3 separate regions of the Homo sapiens genome follow, and regions 1 and 3 are each linked to region 2. The links come from fine-mapping of genetic effects on gene expression. A gene starts in region 2. Each other region holds a variant in brackets. All regions are shown on one strand. Distances are from middle to middle.

What was found. PIP is the estimated chance that this variant, and not a neighbour inherited with it, causes the effect. A credible set is the group of variants that fine-mapping cannot tell apart.
Region 1: its variant is the best candidate, but not a certain one, in a credible set for the expression of MFSD2A in whole blood (TOPMed, PIP 0.87).
Region 3: its variant is the best candidate, but not a certain one, in a credible set for the expression of MFSD2A in whole blood (TOPMed, PIP 0.77).

The regions. Positions count from the first base shown.
Region 1 is chr1:39,779,154-39,789,711 of GRCh38, reverse strand. BMP8B (bone morphogenetic protein 8b) reads left to right here and starts at 847. Exons shown (of 7, transcript NM_001720.5): 1 at 847-1,560. The coding sequence starts at 1,227. It overlaps BMP8B-AS1 (BMP8B antisense RNA 1), which reads right to left and starts at 9,743. Exons shown (of 2, transcript XR_947220.3): 1 at 8,707-9,743; 2 at 8,288-8,474. LOC101929536 (a long non-coding RNA gene) reads right to left here and starts at 736. Exons shown (of 1, transcript NR_135805.1): 1 at 1-736. RefSeq lists enhancers at 240-741, 10,468-10,558 and a silencer at 296-895. The variant A/G (reference allele first, on the strand shown) is at 6,115.
Region 2 is chr1:39,949,201-39,959,758 of GRCh38, reverse strand. MFSD2A (MFSD2 lysolipid transporter A, lysophospholipid) reads right to left here and starts at 4,614. Exons shown (of 14, transcript NM_032793.5): 1 at 4,374-4,614; 2 at 2,538-2,672; 3 at 934-1,058. The coding sequence starts at 4,466. RefSeq lists a silencer at 4,663-4,792.
Region 3 is chr1:39,914,496-39,925,053 of GRCh38, reverse strand. No RefSeq gene overlaps it. Among named protein-coding and RNA genes, the nearest start is that of MYCL, 18 kb to the right of the region's middle. The variant C/T (reference allele first, on the strand shown) is at 5,758.

The sequences.
Region 1 (10,558 bases), 170 kb after region 2:
AGGGCCTTGGCACAAGCTCTTCCCTCTGCTTGGAGCACTTTCCTCCACTGACCTTTCCTGGCGCTCCAGGTCAACTCCAGGAGCCTTCCCAGTACAGTCTAGGTGCCTTCTCCTTCCGCAGCGCCTGAACCACACAGGAATAAGTAAGGCGAGAGCGCGCCCAGAGAAGAGCAGAGAGTGCAGAAAGGGGCTGAGTTAGTAGAGGCATTTCCGCGGGGATCCTTCTCCTGCCAGGCCTGCACCGGGGCCGTGGCGACTGAGAAGTGCACAGGTGGCTCCCGGGTGCTCCAGAAGGGCCCCAGAGCTCCTGGCCCGGCTAAAGGCAGGAGGCGGGTGCGCGTCTCCCCCGCGAAGCTGGATCAGTACTGGGGGCGCAGGGGGCGCACGCCGCGCAGCGAGGGCTGGCGGGGGCGGCCTGCCTGGGGCGCTGCCCAGGCTCACGCGGGAGCCAGGTGGGGGCGCGGGGAGGAGCAGCTGAGCAGGTGCCGGGAAGGAGGCGCCTGCAGCATGCCATGGCGACCCGCGCACGCGACGGCGGGGCGGCCGGGTGGCACCACTGGCGGGACCGGAAGGGCGCCGCGGCCCTAGGATCTCTGCGCCGAGGCCCGCGGCGGAAGCCACGACGGCCATGACCACGCTGACGCCCAGGCTGCGAGCCCCTCGCCCGGGCCGCCTGCCCACCCGCCACGCCCAGGTAGCACCTCGGGGTCTCCCCACCCGCGACACCGGCCGCAGCCCCGGGCCCCCTCGCAGGCGTGGCCCCCGCTCCCAGGCCCCGCCCCCGCCCCCCCATTGGTCAGTCCCGGGGTGGGGGCGGGCGACGCGGACCGCTGGGCAGGGCAGGGCAGGGACTCGCGGGAACCGCACCAAGCGGGTGGCTGCAGGAGCTCGCCCATCGCCCCTGCGCTGCTCGGACCGCGGCCACAGCCGGACTGGCGGGTACGGCGGCGACAGACGGATTGGCCGAGAGTCCCAGTCCGCAGAGTAGCCCCGGCCTCGAGGCGGTGGCGTCCGCGTCCTCTCGTCCAGGAGCCAGGACAGGTGTCGCGCGGCGGGCGCTCCAGGGACCGCGCTGAGGCCGCGGTCGCCGCCCGTCCCGCCCCGCCCCGCCGCCCGCCGCCCGCCGAGCCCAGCCTCCTTGCCGTCGGGGCGTCCCCAGGCCCTGGGTCGGCCGCGGAGCCGATGCGCGCCCGCTGAGCGCCCCAGCTGAGCGCCCCCGGCCTGCCATGACCGCGCTCCCCGGCCCGCTCTGGCTCCTGGGCCTGGCGCTATGCGCGCTGGGCGGGGGCGGCCCCGGCCTGCGACCCCCGCCCGGCTGTCCCCAGCGACGTCTGGGCGCGCGCGAGCGCCGGGACGTGCAGCGCGAGATCCTGGCGGTGCTCGGGCTGCCTGGGCGGCCCCGGCCCCGCGCGCCACCCGCCGCCTCCCGGCTGCCCGCGTCCGCGCCGCTCTTCATGCTGGACCTGTACCACGCCATGGCCGGCGACGACGACGAGGACGGCGCGCCCGCGGAGCGGCGCCTGGGCCGCGCCGACCTGGTCATGAGCTTCGTTAACATGGGTGAGTGCGGCCGCCCGCGCGGGGACCCTCGGAGTAAGCTGGCTGCAGGGGAGGGGCGCGCATCCGCGGGCTGTGCCGGGCCCTGGCCGAACGGGGAGTCACAGACGGTGGACGCGAACCACAGGGGAGTGGGACCGCCGTGGTTAGGGAAGGTCTAAGGGTCATGGGGGCCCCCTGGGCTGCGGGGTGGTCAGGAGCAGAGTGTGGGGGACTGTGGACTCCCAGGCGCTGCCTTCACCCTGCCCCAAACACACCCAGGAGTAAGAATCAGGTGATGTCTTTGCCCACCTGGGCTGCCCCGGGAAGACAGCCTGGTCCTGGGGAGACAGGTGAGTAAACAGAGGCCGGGATGCTGTCACTGTGATAAGGGCAGTACTGAGGAGAGGGACAAAGTTCAGCGTGGAAACCTGTGGTCACATCGGAGTGACCAGAGCTGAGTCGCGTGCCCTGAGTCCACAGCAGGCTCTTCTCTGTGCGGAGCCTGGGTGGGGTGCGGCTGTCAGGGGGGCGGCTGGGGAAGGAGCAAACTCAGCTCGCTGGGGCAGGGACTGTTGCCTTGTCACCCTGGGCCCAACACCTGGGATGTGATCTGGTATGGGGTGAGTGTCCAGTCCTGTGGAATGGTCCAGTGGGCAGCTGGACCCACTTTGTTCTCCCAGGCAAAGCCCGGCTTTTCCTGTCTGCAAATATCTTGTATCAAACCCTGGAGCTATTTATTCCCTAAGATCTCAGAGATTTTTTTTCCAGTACTAAACTCTTTGGTCTATGGTCATGTAGTTACTATTGGTCAGGTCACCCATCTGCTTTGCCTCCTGTCTGTGGCTAGTGACAGTCTGGGGTCTGGGGAACCAAGGACCACAGATCAGCCCAAAGTCGGGGAGCTGTGGGGCTGAGAGGAGGGAGAGGGTCCCTGGCCCCGGCCATCAGCCTCCCTCCACAGACAGCATCATTAATTCTTCATCCTCCCGACAACCCTGATAACAGCCACGGTCTTCATCCCCATCTCCCAGATGAGGACAGTGAGGCTCAGAGAGGCAGCGCCATGCCTAGGACAGCGCAGCCTCTACGCTGCTGAGCCAGGACAGGCCCAGGAAGCCTGACTGTCCATCCAGGGCTCAAAGAGATGACATTTCTGTTGTCAGGTCAGGCTTTCAAGGTGCAGAGACCTTTCTGAGGAGTCTGGGCTGAGGAAAACAGGGGACTGAGCCGCAGCAGGTTTTGTGGGGCCATCAGCCATTTGCTTCCTACACTAGGACAGAAGAGGGCATGGCCAAGCCTCTGCTTCCCGCAACCCAGAGCTGGTGGTGGAGGCGAGCAGCAGGAGGCAGCCATTCACCATCACTGAGCGCCCAGTGCCAGGGACAGGACTCTAGCCGGTGGGATCTGGATGCTGCCTTTGTAGTTAGAGGACAGGGTGGGGATGTGGGACAGAGGAGACCATCTGTGAAGCTGGGGCTGGGGCTCTGTCATCAGGACAGGCTGACACTGGGCTCAGGACCAAGAAGAGTTGTGGATGGAGTCGTCCAAGAATGTCCCCAGGGAGCCGCCCATCAGAATGCGTCACCACCCAGCCCACATCCGACCTCCCCTGGCATCCCCTGGGTCAAGGCATGCACAGCCTGGTGGGGCTATTGCTATGAATTGGGCAGGGCCTACCCCTCTGTGTGACCTTAGGAAAGTTCCTCACCCTCTCAGCCTTCGTTGCTCCTTGTAAAATGAGGTGCCTGGTGATCTGTCCTCAGGGTTGTTGTGTGATTGGTAGAGGGGCAGGAGTAGAAAGCCTGTGCTGCTCCCCTCAGAGGGTGAACCTGGACCTGGGCACTGTTGGCCCCAGGCCCTCCCAGCTGTGGCCTAGTTCGGAGGTGACAGGAACATCTCCACATGTCTTATACACATGTAAAACCTAGAAATGGATTCTAAAAGCCAATCAAAAAGTGTTTGTACCTGTTTTTAGAATGAAAAGTAGCATGTGAACTTTCACAGCCTTACAATTCCTCATTTAACTCATGTGAGACTGTTTTGCCAGCCCTGTTTCATGGGCTCAGAGAGGTTAAATAGCCAGCCCAGGGCCACACCGCACATCCGGGGTGACATCCACGGCTGTGGATTTCAAATCCCAGCTTCTTCCCACACCAGCTTTGTGCATTTCATGAAGACTTGGGGCCTCCAGCGCTGCGAGATTAACAAGCAGATCATTGTTAGTGGAAGCCCAGGCTGTGGGTGGGCGCAGCCAGCTGTCAGAAAGGCCTTCTTTATTCTGCTGTGCTAACTGCACTAGTAGAACTCTCTCAGTTAGAGTAGCTTTAACTGGTAATTACTGAGGCTGGGTGGGGCGGTGGGGGGGCATGGATTAGACACATACCAGGATGCTCTCCATGTTTGGAGGCCCCTGGAGGTTGGTGGCCCTTCTCCTGCCTCAGCCTCCCGAGTAGCTGAGATTACAGTCATGTGGGCAGAGGCCACCACGGGATCTAATAGCAGGGTCACTGTGGTGTCACCGCCCACACGCAGGCTCCCACACCTGCTCCTGCCGGCTCCACCTCTCCTATCAGCTTCATCTGACTCCTGAATAGCCAGGTCTGGTGCCCGTAGGGCCCAACTCTTGATGGCAGCCTGTGGGACCCAGGGGGCGGGGCTCTCATAGGCCTCCCACCATGGCTCAGGTCTCCGTGCAGAGCAGGTGCTTTAGGAAGCCAAGCCTGCGTCCTGATGTTCAGAGCCTGCACTGGGAGGCCAGGGCTGGGGTCAGAGCCGGGGCCCTGCCTGGCCTGTCATCCATATCAGCCTGTAGACCTGGGCTCTCTTGGGCAGGACAGTGATGGAGCGGTTGGATTCTGTCCCTGGTCTCTCTGTGCTCAGGGAGGGGAGAGCCCTGAGCTGGGAGGCAGGACCCAGGTTCTTGTGCTGCCTGGGCCCACCATTAACTCCTGCATGTCCTGAGCCACGGCCCTTCCCTTCCCTGGGCCTCTGCTTTCTCGTCCATTCTACGGTGATGGCATCAGAAAAGCAAGGTGCCTCCCAGCCCTGACCCTGTGGCTCTGTGGCAGAGGCGCCTTCTCACAACACCGCCATGCCTTGGCCCCAGTGCCTCAGGGCAGCCCGGCCCCTCCTGAGGGAGGAAGGATGGCAGGAAGGACCACCTCTGCACACTCCTTCTGAATCCTTCTCCACCCATCTCAGCAGAGAGGCAGGTGCCCATGTTCCAGATTGAGAAACTGAGGCATAAGCAGGCCTAGCAGGCAGAAGTCCAGCCAGGATCAGAATGCAGGCAGCTTCATTTTTGTCCTGATCCCTTCCTGAACCAGACAGATTTGCTCCTGTGGTCTCCGGTGGCCATGGACAGGGGTGTTGATGAACAGAGCCGTCTGGATTTGGGAGAAGCAGGACTGAGTGGGAATTCGGGACCTGGCCCGGGTCCTGCTCTGCCCTTGCCAGCCGTGTGACCTAGAAGGGTGGCACCATCTCCGTGGGCCCCAGGGCCACTTCCTTTGGTTCTTTACCAGGGACCTCTTTCATTTTCCCATTCATTCATTCAGCAAATAGTTCTGTAGCACCTACCACGGACCAGGCAGAGTTCTAGTTGCTGGGGATATAACAATGAGAGAAGTAAAGTCCCTGCCCTCAGGGAGATGACTTTCTAGTCTAGAGACACATAATACATACATGAGCCCTAAAGGTAATTGTCGGGTGTGCTAGACAGCAACGCCCCATCGGGAAACAGGAGGGGCTGAACAATGGCAGGACAGACAGGGCTAGATTGGGGGTTTCTGACCTGAGACCCACACACAAGGAATTTGCATCCTGACGCCAACACCTGATCTCAGTGTGATCTGGGCTTTCCAGTCAACCTCCCCAAGCCTCAGTTTCCTCCTCTGTAAAATGGAGATACTCATCTTATGGGGCTGTTGTGGGCTTGTGTGAGATGATACCCAGCGATGCCCACGTGCCCAGAACCTCTGCATCTCTTCCTTCATTGGTATCTCACAATTGCCGTCACATCTGTGTTTGAAAGAGAGGAGAGAGAGGCTCAGAGCAGATAGGTGGTTTTCCTAAGGCCACACAGCAGATTGTCCCCCTGCCTCCACATCTTCTGCTCTTCTCCAAAATAGCAGCTGCCTCTCCACACAGCCCAGGGCCTGGCCCACCGTTAAATGCAGTGTGTGCTGCTGAAATGGACTGTGTTGAATGGGAACGTGTGATGTAAACTGAGACTACTGCTTAAAAAATATGTTTTTATTTTCAGAGACAGGGTCTTGCTCTTTCACCCAGACTGGAATGCAGTGGCATGGTCATAGCTCACTGCAACTGCAAACTCCTGGCCTCAAGCAATGTTCTCACCTCAGCCTCCTGAATGGCTAGAACTACAGGTGTGCACCACCATGTCCAACTAATTGCTTCAAATCTTTTGTAGAGGCGGGATCTCATTATATTGCCCAGGCTGGTCTCAAACTCCTGGCCTCATCTGATCCTCCTGCCTCAGCCTCCCAAAGTGCTGGGATTACAGGCATGAACCACTGTGCCCAGCGTTTTCTTTTCTTTCTTTTTTTTAACTGC[A/G]TACGTTAATGCTCACTGTTTTGCAACTTTGTTGTTTTTCATTTAACAATAAATCTTTTATCCATCTTAAAAGTCAACTATTAGGGTGACTGTATGCCCAAAGGTATTTGTCCTTGCAATAATTGAAGGTGGGTCCCTTTTCCCCAAAGTTCTGTCTGGCCACCAGAATGGTGCACCCTTTCCATCCCTAGTGACTGGTCCTACCCATTTCCGCAGTGTTTTCTCACCCCTGAGTAAATGATTATGACTGCCCTCATTCACAGAGGAGGAAGCTGAGTCTCAAAGAGTGTAAGTGACTGGCCCCGGGTCCTGGATGCACAGACCCACAGGAGCAGATATGAAAGGTAGATCACAGCTGTAGGAGGGTAGGCCCTGGAAGTGGGGCAGCAGAGTGGTGGTTAGTGACCCTGGAGTGGGGCTCACTGGCTTTCAATTCTGAGTCTACTGCTTAAGAGCTATGAGCTGTTGAACAGATCATTTAAAGTCTCGGCATCTCAGTTTCCTCATCTTTAAAACTGGGATAATAATGCCTGTATCCGGCCAGGTGTGGTGGTGTGCGGATCACTTGAGGTCAGGAGTTCAAGACCAGCCTGGCCAACATGGTGAAACCTTGTCTCTACTAAAAATGCAAAAAAAATTAGCCAGGCATGGTGGCGCGGGACTGTAGTCCTAACTACTCAGGCGGCTGAGGCGAGAGAATTGCTGGAACCTGGGAGATGGAGGTTGCCTGGGAGACAGAGCAAGACTCTGTCTAAATAATAATAATAATGCCTGTATCATAATACAATGATTAAATAGGTTAAGGCACATAAAAACCTAGCAAGTGTCTGGCCAGGCACGGAAGCTCACGTCTGTAATCCCAGCACTTTGGGAGGCCAAGCGGGGGCGGATCACCTGAGGTCAGGAGTTAAAGACAAGCCTGGACAACATGGTGAAACCCCGTCTCTACTAAAAATACAAAAATTAGCCGGCTGTGGTGGCAGGCGCCTGTAATCCCAGCTACTTGGGAGGCTGAGGCAGGAGAATTGCTTGAATCCAAGAGGTGGAGGTTGCAGTGAGCCGAGATCGCGCCATTGCACTCCAGCCTGAGCAACAGGAGCGAAATGCCATCTCAAAAAAAAACAAAAACAAAAACAAAGCAAGTGTCTGGCACTGCTCAATAAGTGGCTGTATTATGAGGGAAGGGCCTGCGGATTATGCCCCATCCCCCAGTCATTTACTTAGGGACCTAGAGCAGAGTAGTAAAAAGCATAGCTCCAGAATCTGACCAGGCTGCCTGGGTGAGATCCTCATTCCACCTAGGCATCCTTGTAGTGGATGCTGTGGGGGGCTTCCCAGAGCTTCTCTTCAGCATTGAGTCGCTCGTGACCCAGCTGCCTGGAGTGCCGGCTGCTGACAGCTCACAGGGGAGTCCTTCTCTAGGTTTTTTTTGTTTTTTTTTTTTTTGAGATGGAGTTTTGCTCTTGTCACCCATGCTGGAGTGCAATGGTGCGATCTTGGCTCACTGCAACCTCCTTGGGTTCAAGCAATTCTTCTGTCTCACCCTCCCAAGTAGCTGGGATTACAGGCACCCGCCACCACGCACGGCTAATTTTGTATTTTTAGTAGAGATGGGGTTTCATCATGTTAGTCAGGCTGATCCTGAACTCCTGACCTCAGGTGATCCACCCACCTCAGCCTCCCAAAGTGCTGGGATTACAGGCGAGAGCCACCACGCCCTACCCTTCTCTAGGTATTGATTGACTGGGCCTAAAGAACTGCCCAAGGTTAGGCACCATCCCTGGGGACACCCACCATCCAACAGCTGGTCTATGGCAGTACCAGTGCCCAGCCCCCTTGCCTTAAAGAGAGACAGCTCTAAAGGGCCACCAGCCCCCAGAGCTCCCAGTGTGGTCTCAGTTGTCTGAGGCCTTTGTTGTGGGTGCATCCAAAACTTGCTCCCTTCATTCACTACAAAAAGCAGTAAACTTTCCAGTTTTCCCAGTAAACTTTCCGACCCAGTGTCTGTTGCCCAGAGAGCCTAACCTAAGATACAATTTACACGATTATGGTCTAATTTATTTAATGCTCTGAGCCTCAGTTTCCTCATCTGTAAAATGGGAGAGCTACCTCATTAGATGATTAGGAGTATTAAATGAGTTAATCTGTGTAAAATTATGAAAAGAGTGGCTGGTCAGTGCTCAATAAATGTCAGCTTTATTTGTTTTTAGCCCAAGGCCAGCTGGTTAGTGGCAAGACCAGAAGCAAAAGTTGGTGATTTCCTTTAACTGCTGGCTCTATCTTGAGTAGCAGCCGTTCCTTCTGAACAGTCCTGGACCCTGCACACATCAGGGTTCTGGGGAAGTTGATGGCTGCAAGACCTGGGTGTGGAGAAAGTTGACTCATTCAGGGCTTTAAGAGCAGTCTATGAACACTCCTTAGCAAGCACTGCTGCAAACCTACTGTGTGCTGTTCCTCTTCCTGTTTATCTTGGGGGCTAATAAAAGTATAGCCCCAGCCCAACCCAAAGTCTGCTCATTTACTGAGAAAGAGAAGCCCAAAGACAACTCAATATAAATGATCCCCAAATGGAAGAAATGTCCATTCACCCACCTGGCAAACATGGGTGTGAGGGTTCAACAGTTCAGAAGACCGACAAGATCCTTCTCTCGTTTTCTGGGAGACAAACAAGGCCAAAGGAGAGGAGGCATGGCTCCCGGCTGGAGATGGGGTCTCGCTGTGTCACCCAGGCTGGAGTGCAGTGGCGCGATCACAGCTTGCTGCAGCCTCAACCTCCCAGACTCAAGTGATCCTCCCACCTCAGCCTCCCAAGTAGCTGGGAAGTACAGGTGCCTACCACCATGCCCAGATAATTTTTAAACATTTTTTTATAGAGACGAGGTCTCATGATGTTGCCCAGGCTGGTCTTCAGCTCCTGGGCTCAAGCCATCCATCCACATTGGCCTCCCAAAGTGCTGAGATGACAGGCGTGAGCCACTGCGCCTGGCCTCTTGCATGTTTTTGAAATGCCAGTTCCTGAAGTGAAAATCCCATCATGGCTTTTCCTGCTCAGGAGCTTCTGTGTGTCCCTTCAAGCCAGAATGGAATTCACGTTTCCCCAGCCTGGCATTCAGAGTTCAGCGTTCTAGTCAACTGCACCGCTTGGTGCTCCCTTGACATATCTGCAGCTTGGAGAGGTCGTGGATTAGGAGAAGTGAATGTAGACTTTGGAGTCCAGACAGACTTTGACCCAAATCCCACCTTGGATGCTTCCAGTTGTGGCCTTGTGCAAATCAGTTAACTTCTGGGATCTTTAGTGCTCTCATCTATAACCTGGGATGAATAATGTCCCCCACAGTGTTGTCATGGTGCCGCCTTCACCATGGCCCTCGATGGTCCCACTTCCTGAGATGCACAGAGTTCTGTGTCCCCTCCAACACTGTGCCAGTGCTGGTCTGTGTGACCAATAGAATATGACACTAGTGGTGATAGGTCCCTGCCAGGATTAGTCTATAAAAGACCATGGCTTCCATCTCTCGGATGCCTCGTTCTGGGGGAGGCCATGAGGTGAGCAGCCCTATGGAGAGGGCCACATGGTGAGCAGCTAAAGACAGCGCGTGGAAGTGGATCCGTCAGCCCCAGCTAAGTCTTCAGAGACTGCAGCCCTAGCTGACAGCTTGACTGTGACCTCATAAGAGACCCTGATCCAGACCTACCCAGCTAAGTTCCTGGATTATTAGCCCTAAGAACAATGTGCAACAATATGTGTTTGTTGTTTTAAACTGCTACATTTGCATAATGAGTTACACAGCCACAGACAACTAACACAGTCAGGTTAGCATGAACAGAAAGGACGTACCACGTGTGCCCAGCATGGTGCCTGACACAGGTCAGTGCTTAAAAAGTGTGACCTGGCACAGCATCTCCCGCCTCTCAGCCTTTCCCTGGGTGACTCTTCAGTTCTCTTCCTCAGTTCTTCCACCCCTCTTGAATATGTTTTCAAGGAAAGTTTTCTCTGCCTCCTTCTTCCAAAGCCCTGTATGTGACTGCGACCGTCACTGAAGCACCTGTCCTGCATTGTGTGCACTTCTCTTAGGATTCCAGTCGCTTTCTGTCTATGTGATGCAGGGGCTCACCTAGCCCCTCTTTCTCCTCCTCCCCAGCAACCTCTGAACAACCTGAGAATAGGGACCAAGTGTGACTCTTCCTGGCACCCCCCATGGTGCACCCAGCCCCTGAGTGGCAGGAAATTGAGGGAAAGAGGAACCCAGCAGGAGGCAGCGAGTGCCAAGAGCAGGGAGGAGCCTGGGTCTGGTCAGGTGGGACAGAGTAGGGCCGGCCCTCCCTGTCTGTGTGCGGGCCGACAATGGGTGCCATAGCTCCCTGGGCCCTCCCCTGGAACCCCAAGTCCCCACAGGGCCCTGCCTGGAGGAAGGTGGCTTCACGGGCATTCTCGGGTGTCTGT
Region 2 (10,558 bases):
AGTCTCAAAATTACATCAACCTTATGAAGTAGAATTAAGTCAGGCACTGTTCTAAGAACGTCAAAAAAAAAAATTAATCCACCACAACTCTGTGAGTGTGAGATAGGTATAACTATTATCCCCATTTTAGATGAAGAAACTTGAGACTCAGAGATGTGAAGTGACTCAGCTCTAAGTAGGGAAATTGGGATTTCAACCCAGACAGGGGCCGGGCATGGTGGCTCACACCTGTAATCCTAACACTTTGGGAGGCTGAGGCGGGAGGACACCTTGAGCCCAGGAGTTCAAGGCCAGCCTAGGCAATATAGTGAGACGCTGTCTCTACAAATAATAATTTTAAAAGATTAGCCAGGTGTGGTGGCACGTGCCTGTAGTCGCAGCTACTCGAGAGGCTGAGGTGGGAAGATCACTTGAGCCCAGGAGTTCTAGGCTGCAGTGAGTTATGATCACACCACTGCACTCCAGCCTGGGTGACAGAGCGAGACCCTGTCTCTAAAAAAAAAAAAAAGAAAGAAAGATAGAAAGAAAGAAAGAGAAAGAAAGATAAAAATAATAAAATAAGCCCAGGCAGGCTGGCTCCAGAGTACAACTGCTTAACCACTCTTAAGTACTACCTCGGCCACTGCAGGAAGTGATAGAGTGGGAGAATTCAGAATTCCAGCTTCACCAAGGGGAATGAGTGGACCCTGGGGAGGAATGAGGCCTGAGCTGCCCAGCCTAGCACTTTGGCTGTCCTGGAAATGAACTGGCTGAGCATGCCAGTGCCCGTGCTCAGGGTAGCTGATGCCTCGGATGGGGTTTCAACACCCTTGGGCTTTTAACTCCTTCCTTCTCCTCACCCTTCTGCCTGTGACAAGACAGAGAGAAGGACCAAGGAGCAGATATGCTGGAAGTCCTGCCTTGTGCCACCTCGAAGGGGCATATTCTACTCACCAGGGCATAAGGCGACCCAGGCAGGTCCAGGGGGATTTGCTGATGCAGAGGCCCACCAGGGGGTCTGTGATGGCATCCCAGGCTCGGCCCACAAACAGGATGATGGAGGCAGAGAAAGGGCCCACCTGGAATGAGGAGAAGCAAAAGACAACTTCCTCATCCTTCTACTCGCCTCAACTCTCACTGGTAGGCAGAAGCAGAGGCTCCCTCCCTATCTCAGCCAGGATCTTGTGACCCTGAGCTGCTCCCACATGGACCTTACACATCTTCACTTGCCTTGTTAATAATGACAATAGCATTTCTCCAATAACAGTAGCACTGGGTGCCTCCTTAGAAGCTTTCCCAGCTCTGTCTCCTTAATTGCTTCCCTCCACTGCCCTTGAAAACATTCCCATCAATTCAAATGAATCCACAAACATTTCCTTCCCTCCCTCTCTCAGCCCTGAGCTCCTGACCACCTGATATCAGAATGAGCATTCACGGGGTGAACACAGTGTGCTTCAGTGTTCCCATCTGTATAATGGGAGTTATGAGCTCTACCTTACAGGTTCAAGCTCTATCTTGGATGTGGAAAAAGGAGCCTATAGATGCTTTTTAAAAAGGGACTTGTCACTACCCACTCAAGTTATCCCCCTCCCCGCCCCAAAACCCCCCAGGCCCTAAATACAGACTCTCCAGACTCCTCCTTATCCATCAAAGCCCTGCTATTGCTATTTCTCTGGGGAGTGGGTATTCTTCCCCATACCATAGTCTCCCTAGTCTAACCCCCCAACCCCAGCTCTAACACCCACTACAACAGGTTTACACTTTGACTGCAGGTTCCTCATATTTACACCCCACCCAAGGCCCAGCCCATGGGAGTTACTCAAAAATTAGCTGCTGAAGTTTTTTGTTCCTTCTGGAGTTCAGTGTTCCCCCTCTGTAAATGGATACAACTAAGATGCGATGCTTGCCAAGTTAGATGCTACACAGAGAAGACAGCTGGTGCAGGAGCCCCGGTAGTCATGGCTATTCTGCCTCCCACTCTCCCATCCAGACAGGGTGAATTCTCAGGATGCCAGGCTTCTGGCCAAGGCTTCTCAATGCACAGAATAGTCCTGTTTCACCCTAAGTACCCCTCCCAGTCAAAGACCCTGTGTACTGGGGCATTCTAACTTAGCCTGGCACCTAAGTGCCCTTCTGCTCCTCAGGTAAAGGTGGGATGCATCTCATCCACAAGCCTGGCAACAGCCACCAACCCCTGAGTCAAGCCAGCTGACTATCTCCCAGCCAGGAACACAGTGTGCCAGTCTCTTCTAAGAACAGCATCCCCAGCAGGCCCCATTCTCCCTCATTCTACCGCCTACCCCTTCAGGCTCTGTTGCTCATGCCAGGCAAGGAGGAGTTGCCAGACCTTTCCAGCAAAGACTCCTGGAGTGGAGACACTCCTTTACTGGATACTTTCCAGGGTCTTCTCATTTCTTGCTCACTGACTCAGAGGCAGCAAAGTAGTGATTTGGGGTCCCATTTCACAGATGGGGAAAACTGAGCGAACTGACCCAGGGGTGCATAGTCTTTCCCACCTCAGGATGCTGAAGGAGCCCTCGAAGGCTTAGACCACTCACCTGAGCCACATCCAATAGGTAGATCTGAAGGAAGAAACCCAGGGCACAGCCCGTCACCTGGTAGGGGGCTCCCCCAAGTGCATAGCAAAGCTTGTTGCAAACAGACAACTGTTGTTTCTTCTTTTTCGGTTCTTTCTGGGAAGAGGAGGAAAAGATGAAAGGCCCAAGGTTCTGGCCTCCATCCAAGAAGGTTCCACAGGAAGGACCATCCCTCTGGCCAGCTCTACCAGAACAAACAACTCTGCTTTGACCTGTTCCTATCCAGGAGATCCCACCTTTTTTTTTTTTTTTTTTTTTTTTTTTTTTGAGACAGAGTCTTGCTCTGTTGCCCAGGCTGGAGTGCAGTGGTGCCATCTCGGCTCACTGCAAGCTCCGCCTCCTGGGTTCACGCCATTCTCCTGCCTCAGCCTCCCAAGTAGCTGGGACTACAGGCACCCACTACCACACCCAGCTAATTTTTTGTATTTTAAGTAGAGACGGGGTTTCACCATGTTAGCCAGCATGGTCTCGATCTCCGAGATCCCACTTTATACAAAAGAAAGGTGTTCTCCATTCTTAGGAACATGGAAAAGGGGAATCCATACTTGTGTGAAAGTAGCCCCTAAGCCACCTCCCTCCTGGAGATTCTAAGGAAACTTATCAGCCCACCATCCCTAAAGAACTCCTCCCAAGGCCTCAGGCACTGCTCCTTTCCAGGTTTCAGGGGGAGCATGCTCCAGCAGCCGACCTGTCCCCACCCGGCACCAGCTGCCACAACCTGAAAATCCGCTTGCTGCCAAGAGCTGCCTGAGCCCAGCCCAGGCTCCCACCCTGCCTCAGAGACAGGATCCACCTGCCTACTCCTGGTGAGAGCTCTAGAGAGCTACGGGGGCCCGGCCCAGCTGGCTGCAGGCGCAGCTGTTCCACCTATCCCAGAGCATCCCTGACCACTATAGGCAGCCAGAGCTTCAGGCGGACCCAGGAACTGTCCTACTCTCCAGCTTCCCGACCCATCGCCCTCCACCCCTGAGCTCCTAGAGGACCTTGGAGACGGGAGGAAAGGCCTCCAGGTTCAGGCCTGATCCCTCTCCGGGTGGGGCACTAGGGAGGTTGGGTTGCCCAGGGAAAGTAGATATTACTCATACATAGTAACAGCATAATTGCTCACCCAGCTCCTTCCAAAGATCAGTTAATAAAATTAAAAGGAAAAGGCAGTCACCTCCCACGAAGGTATCTATTGCCTGAGATCCTTTCCTAGGGGGCCGCCTCATTTTATTTGGTCCTTCAATAAGTCCCCAGGGCTGGGGATGTGGTCGATGGTCTCGATGCGCAAAGCACCGTTCCCGCGCGAACATCCACATTCAGACAAATGCCTGAGGGACGCGGCTCCTTTAAGAGCAGAGCTCTTGTTCTTATGAATGAACTTGAGCGGCCCTAACAGCAGAGTTGAGGCGCAAGAGTAGGTGGGTGGAGTGGGAGGTAGGGGATGAGAGATGGGGAACCAAGGGGAGTTTCCCAGATTTCTGGGGTCATCTCTGGGGTTTGGGGCGGCAAGCCCCAGCCGCTCAACACGGAAGAATGGAAACCGGCTAGGCAGAGCGGGGAATCACATGGGGCTGCCGGCAGAGCCTCTCCGCAGAGCGTGGAGTGCGGGTGAGCAAAGGGGGGCGAGGGCGCCCACAGCTTTTCTCCGTCACCCCCTGTCCCAGGGCACCCCCAGGTCCTCTCTGGCTCGTAGGCTTCCTGTCCCTGGCTATCCCAATGGTCCCCTGACCAGGCCGACCCCGGGACGCCCCTGATCCCCCATTTCCGCCTCCTCCCTCCCCTCGCCCTCCACGCGGGGTGCCGGGCCCTCACCTTCACCTGGGCCGGGCGTTCAGTGCTTTGGAGGATGCTGGTGGGTAGCAGCCCCGCCGCGGAGCCGCTCTCGGCGCCTTCTCCTTTGGCCATGACCCGCGGGCCACGCCGCTTGGGACCTGGTAGACGGGATGCTCCTCTGCCCCGCAGGCCGCTGCTCCTCCCAAGCTCGCTTCGTAGCAGCCTTAGCCACGGCCGCCGCGCGCTAGCCAAGCCGGCTGGCAGACGAGGAACGCACTCTGCTGCACGCCCCCTCCGCGCCTCTTATAGTTCTGCCCAGCCCTCTCGGTTGCGGCCAATCCCCGAGCCCCGCTGCCCCGCCTCCAGCCAATCCCGTCGCCCGCCTCCCTGCCCCCGCCTCGCCCGGCGGCTCTGTGCCACCGAGCCACGTTCTCCAAGCCCCGGAACCGGCATCTGCCTGCGCTGGCTCCTAGCAATCCGAGAAGCAGGCCGCGAGACCTCCCAGACACGCGCGAGGAAACCGAGGCCCCAGGCTGAAAGTGATCTGCCCGGGGTCCCCGATCTGCCCGAGGTCCCCGAGGTCCCCAAGGTCCGACTCTCCCCGAGTCGGGCCTACCACCCATGACTTCTGAGCCCCAGGCCTAGGAAAGGTAGGGGCTCTGAAGCCCACTTTAAAATCTGGAGTCAGGGCCTCTCTCCTTCTTCAAGCCTAGAGGACGTACGCTGACACTTTCCCTCCTGATGCCTCTCTCTCATCCCCGAAGACACACCATTCCCCCGTCCTGCCCTTGGCATCCGGGCAATGGGGAGAAAGATGAGGCAATCCAGTGGCTGCCCCTGCCAGAAGGGAGCTCCCAAGTCGTGGAGAGAAGCCGGGGCTACGCCCGCTAGTACACTATGACAACAGTGGCCTTTTTATGGATAGCTTCCTCCATGCTTAATATGATCTCTTTCGGCCCTCAAAAACCACCAAGTGAGGGTGGTACTATTATTATCCCCATTTTACAGCACAGGAAGGGGAAACTTGGAGAAGTGAAGCAACTGTTATGTAGCAGAGCCAGGCCTGAAAGGTTTTGTCCGATACCAAAGCAGTTGCTCTCAACAGCCCTGCTCTATCCCTCTTAGCATAAATTACAGACGGCAGAATGGGGTGTATGTGTCTCCCAACAAGAAGCCCTGGGAGATACATGGCTCCAGAGGCACTGAGGGTTGAAACAGGGAAAGTTTTGAAAAAGAGAATGCCCAGAAATGTGGTCCTCAAAAGAAGATGGGAGGGCATTAGTTTGGAACAGAAGGCAGGCACGGATGCCAGAAAAGAACAGTCTTTAGTTCCACCTCTGAGTCCCTTATGTCAATGTCACCCCGGTCTTTCCAGTTCTCTGATTAGTGAAGGGGCTGCTGGAACTCTCAAAGGCTACCCACCCGGTTCCTGTGCTCCTTAATGTCAGCCTCCTTCTTCCTTTCTTTAAATCTCTGATTGCAGGGAGGAGAGATAAGGTCTATCTGCCCCAGGATGGTCACACCATGCTCCCTCATACGCCAGCAGATCCCATCTGGGCACACAGCTCTTGGCCATTGCTGAGCAGAAGAGAGCCAAAGTGAGGCACTGAATACTGTGGAAAGGGAATGGCTGGCCCCATTACTCCAAGCTGTGTGACACTGTTCTGTCTCTTTTCCCCTCTCCAGGCTTGGTTAGCTAAGCTCCCTTGCAGCCCCCAAATCTTCTCTCCCACAGTCACACCATACCACAAGTGATCTGTATCCCCCGGTTGACAATGAGCTCCTCAGGTAGGAACCGCATCTTTTTCACTTCTGTGTCCCCACCAACTAGCTTAGGGCCTGAATTATTGTGTTCAGTGAATGAATGTTCAGTCTTCCCCTGCTAAGGTACAAGCACACAGAAACCCATTAGGAAAAGCCCTAAGTGTCTCCATTTACTAGCTGTGCGGCTGACTCTGAACAACTCAGTTAACCTCCCTGTGTAAAATGGTGATATTAATAGTAGCTACTGGCCAGGCACCCTGGCTCACGCCTGTAATCCCAGCACTTTGGGAGGCTGAGGTGGGTGGATCACGAAGTCAGGAGTTCCGGACCAGCCTGGCCAATATGGTGAAACCCTGTCTCAACTAAAAATACAAAAATAAGCCGGGTGTGGTGGGGCACACCTGTAGTCCCAGGTACTCAGGAGGCTGAGGCAGAAGAATCGCTTGAACCCAGGAGGCGGAGGTTGCAGTGAGCCGAGATCGTGCCACTGCACTCCAGCCTGGGTGACAGACAAAGACTCTTGTCTCAAAAAAAAAAAAAAATTAATAGTAGCTACCTAATAGATTTGTTTTGGGGATGAAACAAGAAAATGCACAGGAAGCATTTAGCACAAGTGCCTGGGAGCTGAAGCTGGGCTGGTCCCCCTCCTGGCCTGATTCCAGTCTGTCAGTGTAGCAACGCAAGATTCCAGATATGGCCTGACCAAGCCAGCACAATAGGCCTATTATTTTTTCCAGTCTGGATGCGACACATTGTTAATGCAGCCTAAGACTGCTGGGCTTCAGAGCCTTTCTCTCCCATGATTAGTTCCCATCAGGTTGTGGTCAACTAAATCATTCAGATCCTTTTCACCGGAGTTGGGGTCAAGTCAGGTCTCTCCCCGATCCTCTGCTTTCTGTAATGTCTTGAGGCTCACAACAGAACAATGTCATCTTGCTTATTCCAGCCTGTCGAAATTGTTGTGGATGCTGGTTCTATGGCTCACTGTTTTCTCTCACTCTAAATTTAGATCTGGCTGTCCCTTGCAACTTCAACTCCACCAGCCATGTTGTTGGTCAGGACAGAGCCCCATAACACAGCACTAGAGACACTCACTGTCACCACTAACTGAATCACGGCACCGCCAATACAACAGCTCCCAAATACCAAGCAGCCACTGGTATGCTGGGCAGCGTGCCCCATAAGTGCTTTAAATATACTATCTCATTTACTTCTGTTTTTTTTTCTTTATATCTCATTTAGTCCCAACAACACCACTGGAGAGAGTTGTTTTTATTACCCTCATTTTATTTATTTTTATTTTATTTTCTTAGAGATAGGGTCTTGCTCTCTCCTCCAGGCTGGAGTGCAGTGGCACACACGATCATAGCTCACTGCAGCCTTGAATTCCTCAGCTCAAGTGATATGATTAGGCTTTGTGTCCCCACCCAGATCTCATCTTGAATTATATCCTAATAATCCCCATACCCCCACAATCCCCACATGCCAAGGGAGAGACCAGGTGGAGGTGACTGAATCGTGGGAGTGGTTTCCTCCATGCTGTTCTCATGACAGTGAGTGAGTTGTTACAAGATCTGATGGTTATATAAGGGGCTCTTCCCCCTTTGCTCAGCATTTCTCCTTCCTGCTGCTTTGTGAAAAAGATGCCAGCTGTGTGCAGTGGCTCACGCCTATAATCCCAACACTTTAGGAGGCCAAGACAGGTGGATCAGTTGAGGTCAGGAGTTTGAGACCAGGGTAGTCAACATGGTGAAACCTGTCTCTACTAAAAATACAAAAATTAGCTGGGTGTGGTGGTGCGCGCTTGCAGTCCCAGCTACTTGGGAGGGTGAGGCAGGCGTATCACTTGAACCCAGGAGGCGGAGGTTGCAGTGAGCCGAGATCACACCACTGCACTCCGGCCTGGGCAACAGAGCGAGACTGTCTCAAATAAAAAAAAAAAAAGAAGAAGATGCCTTGCATTCCCTTTGTCTTCTGCCATGATTGGAGTTTCTTGAGGCCTCCCCAGCCATGCTGAATTGTGAGCCAATTAAACCTCTTTCCTTTATAAATTACCCAGTCTCAGGCAGTTATTTATAGCAGTATGAAAACAGACTAGTATATTAAGCAGTCCTCCTGCCTTAGCTTCCTGAGTAGCTGGGACTACAGGCATGTGCCACCATGCCTGTCTAATTTTTAAGTTTTAAAAAAATTGGCTGGGTGCGGTGGCTCACGCCTATAATCCCGGCACTTCAGGAGGCCGAGGCAGGCGGATCACAAGGTCAGGAGATCGAGACCAGCCATGACCAACATGGTGAAACCCCATCTCTACTAAAAATACAAAAATTAGCTGGGCGTGGTGGTGTGTGCCTATAGTCCCAGCTAGTCAGGAGCCCAAGGCAGGAGAACCCAGGAGGCAGAGGTTGCAGTGAGCTGAGATCAGCCAAAAAAAACTTCTGAGAAGACTGGATTCAGAGAGCTTCTGGCTAGCATGAATACACAGAGCTTCCTGAGGGTAATGTCCCAGCCAAGGCATGGAAGCTCCACAAGCCTTCCTCCGTATCTCACCTTATGCATCTCTTCATCTTTATCCTTTGTAGTATCCCAAACCAGTCAACATGGGTGTTTCCTTGATTTCTGTAAATAACTCCAGCAAATTAATCCAACCCAAAGAGGGGATCATGGGAACCTCAATTTGAAGCCAGCTTGTCAGAAGTTCCAGAGGCCTGGCGTTGTGACTGGTGTCTAGGGTTCAGGAGACAGTCTTGGGAACTGAGCCCTCCACCTATGAGATCTGATACTATCTCCAGGTAGGTAGTGTTGGAATTGAATGAGAGGACACCCAGCTGGTGTCCACTGTTTAGTGTGTGGGGGGAAAAAAGAAAACCCATACCCGTGGTCAGATCATTCTTCTATGTTGGTGATTGTGGTGATGGTGGTGTGACAGTAGAGGAAAAACACAGTTTGAGAGGTTTTTCCTAAACAACTGGTGTCAGGAGTGGGATATTCTGGGCTGATCCAGGCTCAAGGAAACATGTGGTTTGGGAAAAGAAAGTACAAAAAGATGAAAGATGAGGAACCTTTGATTCCTGGGTGGCCATGTGCTCACCCATAGTATGAAGCCACAGGGACACACGTAGTATGTACCTAGATTAGGTACTAAAAGTCAAAGATACCAGGGAAATTTAGAGATGGCTCCAACTCCCAGGGAGTTGATTGACTACATGCATAAGGAAATGCAAATTAATAAGAAAAAAAAGCTAAATATTCAGTTCCTTGGTTATTATCTGTAATGGCTAACGTGAAATTAAAAGAGAATGCTGGGTGAGACCTTGGTGCTAGACCAGCTTAGACCTCAATCAGTCTGAATTTAGGCCACCAGCCTCAAAGCTGCCCCCACAGGGCAGAATTATGCAGAGACAACAGAAAGTACTTCTAAGACTTGTGTTTACCAAGAAAGTAATCACTGTGGGAGGAGGGCAAAACCAAGTAACTATTGAAACCAGAGGGCATAGTGTGAAGGAATTATTCCATTTTGTAGATCCTTATCATCAGCTTCCTGAGGAACTTTTACGAAAATGAATTCTGTGAGTAAGTAGTTTAGGAGCAGGATCTTTGGTTTTAATTGCTGCGGAGTGGAAGAGCCTGTTTGGGTTGATGCAGGACCCACAGCTCACTACTGAACAATGGCAGATGGGTATATGTGATTCAGACACACAAAAGATGTATTTCTGAGGGAATGACCAGCCTTGGACTGGTTTTATCCAGTGGACTGGATAAAAGCCACTATAATATCTATTTACCCTGAGAAGCGGGGACTGTCCAACTCCACCTAGAAATGCCAAGGGGACCACCCCAGATGAAGCAGCCCATATGCTTCATATGCAAGCCATATGGGACTGGCTTTATGATGGCAGGGACATTCACCCACTGAAGATGCCCATTACCCAAGTCATGCTAAGTGCTGTGGTTAAAGGAGCCTCTTCTACACTGGCACCCCATGTAAGCTTACTCCTGCAGAATCAAACAGCAGTTCAAATTTGCTGTCTCAGCTTCCATTCATGGGTCTTAGAGATGCTAATGAAAGCATAAGGTTAGTTAACAAGAGAATGAGAAAAGGCAAAAGGTAGAGTCAAAAGACTCATCCTAAGAAGACTGAAATTTTTAAACGGTTATTAAGAAATAAGATGAATAAAGAAAACATTTAGCCAGACGTTGTGGTTCAGGCCTGTCATCCCAGCACTTCGGGAGGCCAAGGCAAGCAGATCGCTTGAGCCCAGGAGTTTGAGGCCAGCCTGGGCAACATGGCGAAACCTGTCTCTCCAAAAAAATATTAAAAATTAGCCGTGCATGGTGGCACGTGCCTGTAGTCCCAGCTACTCAGGAGGCTGAGGTGGGAGAATCACCTGAGCCTGGGAAGTCAAGGTTACAGTGAGCTGTGATCACACAACTGCACTGTAGCCCAGGTGACAGAGTGAGAC
Region 3 (10,558 bases), 35 kb after region 2:
CCTGACTGCAGGTGATCCACCCACCTCAGCCTCCCAAAGTGCTGAGATTACAGCCCTGAGGCACCGCACCTGGCCACACATCTTTAATCCCTTAAATACAAATGGATCCTCACTGTGCATCCTAGGCCTCTGGCTCTTTGCAGACAGCTCAGTGAGGGTGATTTTACCACTCCCCAGAGCCTCTGTCTTACCAATGGTGAATCTTAAGCCCAGCTTCCTCTCCTGAGCACCAGAGCCCCAATATTCCACTGATCTCCTCATTGCTGACCCAGACTTGCAGACCCCACATAGCTAAAAGCAAGCCCATTCTCCTCCTCTGGATCCTCAGTTCAGTGAATGGCTCCTCCTTCCACCCATTCTCCCAGGCCAGAAACCCAAGAGTCAACCTTGTCTCCTCTCTCTCCTCCAGACCCCACATCCTATCAGTTCTTCCTTCTAAATACCTGTCCCCTGTCTGCCCCTTCTCTCCATCTCCACTCTACTTTCAGGTGAGATAAACACTTCTTCCACCCAGTTACTAACTTCTGCCCTCTAACCTCCAGTTATGCAAACCTAAAGGCCTACAAATCTTTTCCTTGGTTCAGGGGACTCAGATGGCATAACCAGCTCATTCTGACATGTTTGAGAAATCTTTCATTAGATGTCTCAGAGCCAGGTGTGGTGGCTCACGCCTGTAATCCCAGCAATTTGAGAGGCTGAGGTGGGAAGATTGCTTGAGCCCAGAAGTTCAAGACCAGCCTGGGTAACGTAGTAGATCCCTGTAGTTCCAGCTGTTCAGGAGGTTGAGGTGGGATGATCAGTTAGCCAGGGAGTTTGAGGCTGTAGTGAGCTATGATGGCACAGCTGCACTCCAGCCTGGGCAACAGAGCAAGACCTTGTTAAGAAGGAGAAGGAGAAGGAGATTATTTCCAGAAAGCAACATTTTAAAAATCAGGCAATCAAGAATCATAACTAAATAAGGCTGGGCTGGGTGGCTCACACATGTAATCACAACACTTTGAGAGGCCGAGGAGGGCAGATCACTTGAGTTCAGGAGTTTGAGACCCGCCTGGGCAACATGGTGAAACCCTGTCTCTACCAAAATACAAAAAATTAGCCAGGCGTAGTGGTGTGTGCTTGTGGTCCCAACTACTCAGGAGGCTGAGATGGGAGGATTGCCTGAGCCCGGGAAGCGGAGGTTTCAGTGAGCTGAGATCACACCACTGCACTCCAGCCTGGGTGACCCTGTCTCAAAAATAAAATTAATGAATGAGACCCTGTCTCAAAAATAAAATTAAATTTAAAAAAATCACAACTAAATAAAATATCCGCCTTTCAAAATAAACTTGCTTTTCAGACCCTTGTAACAGGGAAATTGTCTAAGAGTTTTTTATTGTACAACTAACACCACTTTGCAAGAGGCTACAAATAATATTTAAAATAATGTATTACATTATTTTAAAAAGCCCCTTGCCCCCAGCATAACACTCTTTTTTTTTTTTTTTTTGAGACGGAGTCTCACTTTGTTGTCCAGGCTGGAGTGCAGTGGGGTGATCTCAGCTCACTGCAACATCTGCCTCCCGACTTCAAGCAATTCCCCTGCCTCAGCCTCCCGAGTAGCTGGGATTACAGGTGTGCACCACCACTCCCAGCTAATTTTTGTATTTTTAGTGGAGACGGGTTTTCACCATATTGGTCAGGCTGGTCTCGAACTCCTGACCTCAGGTGATTTGCCCACCTTGGCCTCTCAAAGTGCTGGGATTACAGGCGTGAACCACCGCACCCGGCCCTCTCTAGCATGACACTCATCAGCAACTTATATAACACAAGCATCTCAGATCTTCAATCCCTTCAAAAGAAGCCAAAATCTGAGTTTTAAATGAAATTTCATAACTTTTAAATGTTGACAATCAGTCCAGGCGCAGTGGCTCATGCCTGTAACCAACTCCAGCACTTTGGGAGGCTGAGGCGAGCGGATCATCTGAGGTCAGGAGTTTGAGACCAGCCTGGCCAACATAGCGAAACCCCATCTCTACTAAAAATACAAAAATTAGCTAGGCTACTCCGAAGGCTGAGGCACAAGAATCGCTTGAACCTGGGCGGTAGAGGTTGCAGTGAAATGAAATCACGGCACTGCACTCCAGCCTGGGCGACAGAGTAAGACTCAGTCTCAAAAAAAAAAAAAAAAAAAAAAATCAGACCTCCACGAATAAGTTTACTGAGAGTCTGAAGGAACTCCCCAAACCTCCATGATTTAGCAGGAGTATGGTCCCTGCGATCATGGACTATGTTTTTGTGCACTAACTCCTGCCGCAGCTCGATAACTGATGGATGCACGAATGAGTGGATGCGTGAATGAATGAAAGCCAGCGCAGATCTAGTATCCTCTGCCCGGTTAATACCTGTCTGAAAGCCGCGGGCCCTGCCCCAGCAGCGGATGCCAAGAGCGCGAGCCAGAGGTCACAGAAGCTCAGCGGGGAGCGGGGCTCGCACAATGCAGGTGCCGGCTGCTCCCTCCCTTCCGCCGCTTTGAGGCTCTAGGACAACCTTGGAGCCGCTTCCTGCGCGCAGCCTGGGGCCTGCGACGTCCGGCTGCCGACCCCCACCTCTGCCTCCTCCAAGCCACAGGCCTAGGTTGTCGGGGAGGATGGGTGGGGGTAGAAGCGCCCCTTGCTAGGCTTGGAACATCTGGCCGAGTCCTGGGCGGAGGGCTGCTGTCCAGTCCCTGGTCCACTTCCCGGCTGTGTGACTGGACACATCTGCCAACTGTGCTGTAATGGATTTGTTGCCTCCTAGTCCCGCCCCTCCTTCTGACACACAGGGTGTCAGAGTAGACCCGCACTCAGAACCGATTTGAATTCGGCACTCCCCATCCCAAGTATGAAAACAATAATAGCTTTGACATCATGGAACACCTTCTAGGTGATGGAAACGCCCAGCTGAGAGTTTTGCATGGATGATCCTATTTAATCTTCACCACGGTCAGGCATGATAAGCAGGAATCTCCCTATTTGACAGGTTAGGAGACAAGACCAGTTTGGTTTAGGTGCCTTTCTCAGGTCACACAGTTAGGGGTGGCGCAGCCTAGATGTGCCTAACTCCAGTGTCTTGCTTGTTCCTGGGTTTTCTGTGTGGCGGCTCCAATACTTAGGCCCAGGGACTTGAGCCAGGCCTGAGGATATGAACCGAGGTGGGGGCTTCCCTGCCCTTCATAAAGCTTCCTTTCTGATGGGGGATGATCGTTCTAGCACTGGATGATCACCAACCTTACTTCGTTGCTAGGCAGACAGAAAGGGATGCCTGAGCACTTAAGTATAGACCAATTTCCGGTGGATGGAACAGTTGCGCAAAGCTGGAGTCAGGGTGGGAACTTCCAGGTCACGTTCCTGCAACAACACAACAATGCTCCCATGATGCCCCCAACAACTTCTACCAGCTGAAATGGGGTGCTCCCTCCACAGGGATATCTCTGAGTGTGTCTGTGTCAGCAAGACCTCTGGAAAATTCCATGTCCTCCCCATAACACCTGATGTGGGGATGCCTAAGCAGCGATAGCCTGGCAAATGTTTAACAAACTGGAAGGTGGGCGGCAGGAGGTGGGGAACCCTGATTTGTAGCATTTGTGGGTTTCCATGAAGTAAATAATCTGCCATGACCAACTGCAAGCTACCAAAGTTGAAGTTGGGCCGGGCACAGTGGCTCACGCCCGTAATCCAAGCACTTTGGGAGGCTGAGGCGGGTGGATCACTTGAGCTCAGGAGTCTGAGACCAGCCTGGCCAACATGGTGAAACCTCGTCTCTACTAAAAAAATACAAAATTAGCCAGGTGTGGCAGCAGGCACCTGTAATCCCAGCTACTTGGGAGGCTGAGGCAGGAGAATCACTTGAACCCAGGAAGCACAGGTTGCAGTGAGCCAAGATCGCGCCATTGCACTCCAGCCTGGGCAACAAGAATGAAACTCCATCTCAAAACAAAACAAAACAAAACAAAACAAAACAAAAAATCAAAGTTGAAGTTGGACAGTAGCAAACCACTACATAGTACTTTCACCATAACTGATATGATAGGCAGATAATAGTAAAACATAATAAAATAATTAGGGATTGATTTTTATTTTATTTATTTATTTTTGAGACAAGGGCTCATTCCATCACTAGGCTGGAGCGCAGTGGCGCAATCACAGCTCACCGCAGCCTCGATCTCTCAAGCTAAAGTGATCCTTCCACCTCAGCTTCCCAAGTAGCTGGGACTACAGGCGCTCACCACTATGCCCAGCTGATTTTTGTATTTTTTGTAGAGATGGGGTTTCACCCTGTTGCCCAGGTGGGTCTCAAACTCCTGGGCTCAAGTCATCTGCCCACCTTGACCTCCCAAAGTGCTGAGATTATATGTGTGAGCCACCATGCCCAGCCAATATAGTTTATTTAAATGTAAATTTATATAGTTTAATTTTTACTTTATTAATTTTGTGCCCTAATTCCATGACACATTATAATTTTTATTTTTTAATTTTAATTTTATTTTTTATTTATTTTTTTTTGAGACGGAGTCTTGCTCTGTTGCCCAGGCTGGAGTGCAGTGGCATGATCTCAGCTCACTGCAACCTCCGCCTCCCAGGTTCACACCATTCTCCTGCCTCAGCCTCCCGAGTAGCTGGGACTACAGGCGCCTGCCACCACACTCGGCTAACTTTTTACATTTTTAGTAGAGATGGGGTTTCACCGCGTAAGCCAGGATGGTCTCAATCTCCCGACCTCGTGATCCGCCCGCCTTGGCCTCCCAAAGTGCTGGGATTACAGGCGTGAGCCACCATGCCTGGCCTTTTTTTTTTTTTTTCTCTCTCTTTTTTAAATTTGAGACATGGTCTTGCTCTGTCTCCCAGGCTAGAGTGCAGTGGTGCAATCATAGCTCACTGCAGCGTGGACCTTTCAGACTCAAGTGATGCTCCCATCTCAGCCTTCTGAGTAGCCGGGACTAGAGGTGCACACCACCATGCCTGGCTAATTTTTTGATTTTTTTGTAGAGACAAGGGTCTCCCTATGTTGCTTAGGATGGTCTCGCACTGGGCTTAAGCGATTCTCCCACCTGGGCGTCCCAAATTGCTGGGATTACAGGTGTGAGCCACCGTGCCCAGCTATAATTTAATATTTAATGACCAAGTTTACCAACCAGCTCTCAAGATTCCTGAAAATGCAAGAGTCAATTCTCACTAAGCTGATACAAGCCAGTTCCAGCACAGCACTGAACCTAGATCACTGGGTCCACTGGCTCCTGGGGCCGTCAGCTCCTTCTGTTTCCTCCAGCCTCAGGGCTCCCACGCATCTAGCCTGGGTTTCCCTCCCCATCTCTCTAGCCTGGGTTTCCCTCCCCATCTCTCTAGACTGGGTTTCCCTCTAGTGGACAGAATTGTTATTTCCAGGTGATTATCTTGCTCCACCTGTGCCCAGAGCTCAGCACCTTAAGAAGGGTGCGGAGGAAGTTTGTCATCAATCCTCCTTAAGACCTTAAGGGGCTGCTCTGCCTATGGAATAGCCATTCTTTTATTTCTTTGCCTTCTTGATAAACTTGCTTTCACTTCAAAAAAAAAAAAAAAGTACCTTAAAAAGGGTACATAACAGTCTCACAATTGCCCTCAAGCACAAGTCACTTAGTATTATGTCCCCGTGAGGGGGAGTGCCAGGAGGGCCTCCTTGGGCTTTAGTCATTATCACAATCTCCAGAGCTGCTCAGAAATCCCATCTCATCCTCTGTGTGGCAGCTCAGGCTGGCTATATTAG[C/T]CCTTCAGGTTTGGGGAATACCCCGCCTGACCCTGACCCCTGCAATTAATTAGCTCTATCTCTGAGAAGGTAAACTGGAAGATTCAGTTTGTGTTAGGAATCAAGCTCTCACACAATTCATAGCCCACTGGGGAAACACTGATGGAGGCCATTCATGTGTTGGGCAAAGATGAAACCATGGAGTCTGTTAGATGCAGATCTGGGGCTCAGGATGCTGCATCCTGCATTACACCAGGACTCTTTTCTCCCAGAAGTGATCTTTCCAAAGCACAGATATATCTGTCACTCTTCCGTTCACAAGCCTCCTATGATTCTCCAATGCTTTCAGCTTTAGTACAAGTTCCTTAGCCAGGCTTTGAGGGCCTTGATTGGGACCTTACCCAGATTGTTTACCTTAAATGTCCAGGCCAGGTGCGGCAGCTCACAACTGTAATTCCAGCACTTTGGGAGGCCGAGGTGGGCAGATCACGAGGTCAGGCGATCAAGACCATCCTGGCCAACATGGTGAAACCCCATCTCTACTAAAAATATAAAAAGTAGCTGGGCATGGTTGCATATGCCTGTAGTCCCAGGTACTTGGGAGGCTGAGGCAGGAGAATCCCTTGAACCTGGGAGGCGGAGGTTGCAGTGAGCCAAGATCGCACCACTGCATTCCAGCCTGGCAACAGAGCGAGACTCTGTCTCAAAATTAAAAAAACAAAAAGAAGAAGAGAAGAAAACTGACATTTTTGGAATTCTCCTCTGTGCCAGGCACTGTGCTAAAACTTTGCAGTTTAATTTAATTCTCCAATAATGCTGCTAGATAGGAAAAAACCTCTCTAGAGATGAGAAAACTAAGGGTCAGTACAAGCCTGCTCACCGTAACACTGCTTCAGAGTAGTTTTTCCTTCATCCTACTTCTGTTTATTTTTTTTTTTTTATTTTTTTGAGATGGAGTTTTGTTCTTCTCACCCAGGCTGGAGTGCAATGGCGTGATCTCGGCTCACTGCAACCTTTGCCTCCCAGATTCAAGCAATTCTCCTGCCTCAGCCTCCCGAGTAGCTGGGACTACAGGTGCCCGCCACCACACCCGGCTAATTTTTGTATTTTTAGTAGAGACGGGTTTCATCATGTTGGCCAGGCTGGTCTTGGAACTCCTGACCTCAGGTAATCTGCCTGTCTCAACCTCCCAAAGTGCTGGGATTACAGGCGGGAGCCACCACTCCTGGCCTGTTCTTGAAAGCTGCTGTTTTCTCTCTAAGCCTGGTCCCTTCCCCAGGTTGGCTGCAGAGGGAGACACAAGATCTCCTGAACCCCTTTTTCACTGAACTTAAAGCAAGGCCACATTCCTTAGGGTTCTAAGGAAAGCACAGCTTTGCAGTGAAACCCAAGCCAAGGTAACAGAGCCACAGATATAGGATAAGAAACCAGATTTTACACCTGGTTAATTCTTCTGGGGCCAGCTCCAGAGCCCTTCCTCTTCCTAACTCTCCCCTCCCTAAATCTTTTTTCTCCTCCTCTCCCCTCTTCACCTCCTTACTTCCACTAAAATCCTAGACATCTTATGGATCAGATCAAATTTCCCTCCTCCAGAAAGCCCTCTCAGACAACCTGGATCAGGAATCTGCCTAATGAAAATAAGAATTGTTGGCCGGGCACAGTGGTTCACGCCTGTAATCCCAGCACTTTGGGAGGCCAAGGTGGGCGGATCACGAGGTCAGGAGATCGAGACCATTCTGGTCAACAAGGAGAAACCCCATCATTACTAAAAATACAAAAATTAGCTGGGCATGGCGGCTCATGCCTGTGATCCCAGCTACTTGGGAGGCTGAAGCAGGAGAATCGCTTGAACCTCGGAGGTGCAGATTGCAGTGAGCCAAGATCGTGCCACTGAACCGTAGCCTGGCGAGACTCCATCAAAGGAAGGAAAAGAAAGAAATAAAGGAAGAGAGAGAAAGAGAAAGAAAGAAAGAAAGAAAGAAAGAAAGAAAGAAAGAAAGAAAGAAAGAAAGAAAAGAAAAGAAAAAAAAGAAAAGAAAAGAAAAGAAAAAAGAAAAGAAAAGAAATTGTTGCAGCTTAAAAGGAAGAACAGCCCAGATGCAGTGGCTCATGCCTGTAATCCCAGCATTTTGGGAGCCTGGGCAAGTGGATCGCTTGAGTCCAGGAATTCAAGATCAGCCTGGCCAACATGGTGAAACCCTGTCTTTACTAAAAATGCAAAATTAATCGGGTGTGGTTCCGTGTGCCTGTAGTTTCACCTACTCCGGAGGTTGAGGTGGGAGAACCGTTGAGCCCAGGAGGTGGAGGTTGCCGTGAGCCAAGATTGTGCCACTGCACCCCAGGCTGGGTGACAGAGCAAGACCCTATCTCAATCAATCAATAAATAAATGGAAGAACAAATTTCTGGCTAAATATGAAGATTGTTCACATGTGCTTATCTCCACTCCTGAAATTCCACTAAAATGACAGCAAGTGGATTAGAAGAAATTGTTTTAATTTACGAGCACACACACAAAAAAAGGAACGCCAGGCGCGGTGGCTCACGCCTGTAGTCCTAGCACTTTGAGAGGCTGAGGCGGGTGGATCACCTGAGGTCAGGAGTTCAAGACCAGCCTGACCAACATGGTGAAACCCCATCTCTACTAAAAATACAAAAAAAAATTAGCCAGGCATGGTGGTGGGCGCCTATGATCCCAGCTGCTCTGGAGGCTGAGGCAGGAGAATCACTTGTACCCGGGAGGTGGAGATCACGCCATTGCACTCCAGTCTGGGTGACAGAGCAAGACACCACCTCAAAAGAAAAAAATAAAGTCTAGTATCCAGTTTTATCCCCACTGACACTGAGCTCTGAGTGGCTCTTAAAAATATATAAAATTTTATAAAAAGAGTCTAGTATCCAGACTATATAATAAATTCTTACAACATGACAACAAAAAGACAACTCAGTTAAAAATGGGCCAGGTGGCTGGGTGTGGTAGCTCACACCTATAATACCAGCACTTTGGGAGGCCCAGGCAGGAGGACCCTTTGAGTCCAAGAGTTCAAGACCACCCTGGGCAACATAGAGAGACCTCCTTTCTACAAAAGATCAAAAGATTAGCTGGGGCCAGGCATGGTGACTCACACTTGTAATCCCAGCACTTTGGGAGGCTGAGGCAGGTAGATCATTTGAGGTCAGGAGTTGGGGACCAGTTTGGCCAACATGGTAAGATCTGGGTATCTACTAAAAATACAAAAATTAGCCGGGCATGGTGGCATGCACCTATAATCCCAGCTGCTCGAGAAGCTGAGGTAGGAGAATCACTTGAACCCAGGAGGCAGAGGTTGCAGTGAGCCAAGATAGAGCCAGTGCACTCTAGCCTGGGCGACCGGGTGAGACTGTGTGTTGAAAAAAAAAAAAAGATTAGCTGGGTGTGGTGGCTGGCCTCTAGTCCCAGCTACTCAGGAAGCTGAGGTAGAAGGATCACTTAAGCCCAGGAGGTAGAGGCTGCAGTGAGCCATGATCATGCCACTGCAGTCCAGTGTGGGCCATAGAACGAGACAATATCTCAAATAAATAAATAAGCAAGCCAGGTATGGTGGCACATGCCTGTGGTCTCAGCTACACTACTCAGGAAACTGAACGGGGAGGATTGTTTGAGACCAGGAGGTCAAGGCTGCAGTAAGCTGTGATGGTGCTACTGCACTCCAGCCTAGGTGACAGAATATGACCCTGTCTCAAAAAAAAAAAAAAAAGTGGGGAGTGACAAAGGATTTGAATAGACATTTATCCAAACAAGATATATTAACAGCCAATAAGCACATGAAAAGATAATCAACATTATTAGTTGTTAGAGAAATGCAACTCAAAACCACAAGAAGGCCCGGCACGGTAGCTCATTCCTGTAATCCTAGCACTTTGGGAGGCCAAGGTGGACGCATCATTTGAGGTCAGGAATTCCAGACCAGCCTGGCTAACATGGTGAAACCCTGTCTCTACTAAAATACACAAATTAGGGCTAGGCACAGTGGTTCATGCCTGTAATCAGAGCAGTTTGTGAGGCTGAGGCAGGCGGATCACCTGAGTTCATGAGTTCTAGACCAGCCTGGCCAACATGGTGAAACCCAGTCTCTACTAAAAAATACAAAAATTAGCTGGATGTGGTGGCATGTGTCCGTAATCCCAGCTACTCAGGAGGCTGAGGCAGGAGAGTTGCTTGAACCTGGGAGGCAGAGGTTGCAGTGAGCTGAGACATGCCACTGCACTCCAACCTGGGCAACAAGCGAGATTCCGTATCAAAAAATAATAATAGGCCGGGTGTGGTGGCTCATGCCTATAATCCCAGCATTTTGGGAGACCAAGGCGGGCAGATCACATGAGTTCAGGAGTTCAAGACAAGCCTAGCTAACATGGTGAAACCCTGCCTCTACTAAAAATACAAAAATTAGCCGGGCATAGTGGCACACGCCTGTAGTCCCAGCTACTCTGGAGGCTGAGGCAGGAGAATCACTTGAACCCAGGAGGCAGTGGTTGCAGTGAGCCAAGATCATGCCATTGCGCTCCAGCTTGGGCAACAAGAGCGAAACTCCATCTCAAATAATAATAATAATAATAACATAAAATAAATTGGTAAAATACAGAATTACCCAGCCTTGGTGGTGCATGCCTATAATCCTAACTACTCAGGAGGCAGAGGTGGGAGGATTGCTTGAGCCCACTAGAAGGCAGAGGTTGCAGTGAGCAGAGATCATGCCATTGCACTCCAGCCTCGACAACAGTGTGGGACCCTGTCTAAAAAAAAAAAAAAAAAAAAAAAAAAAACAAAATAAAAACAAAAACAAA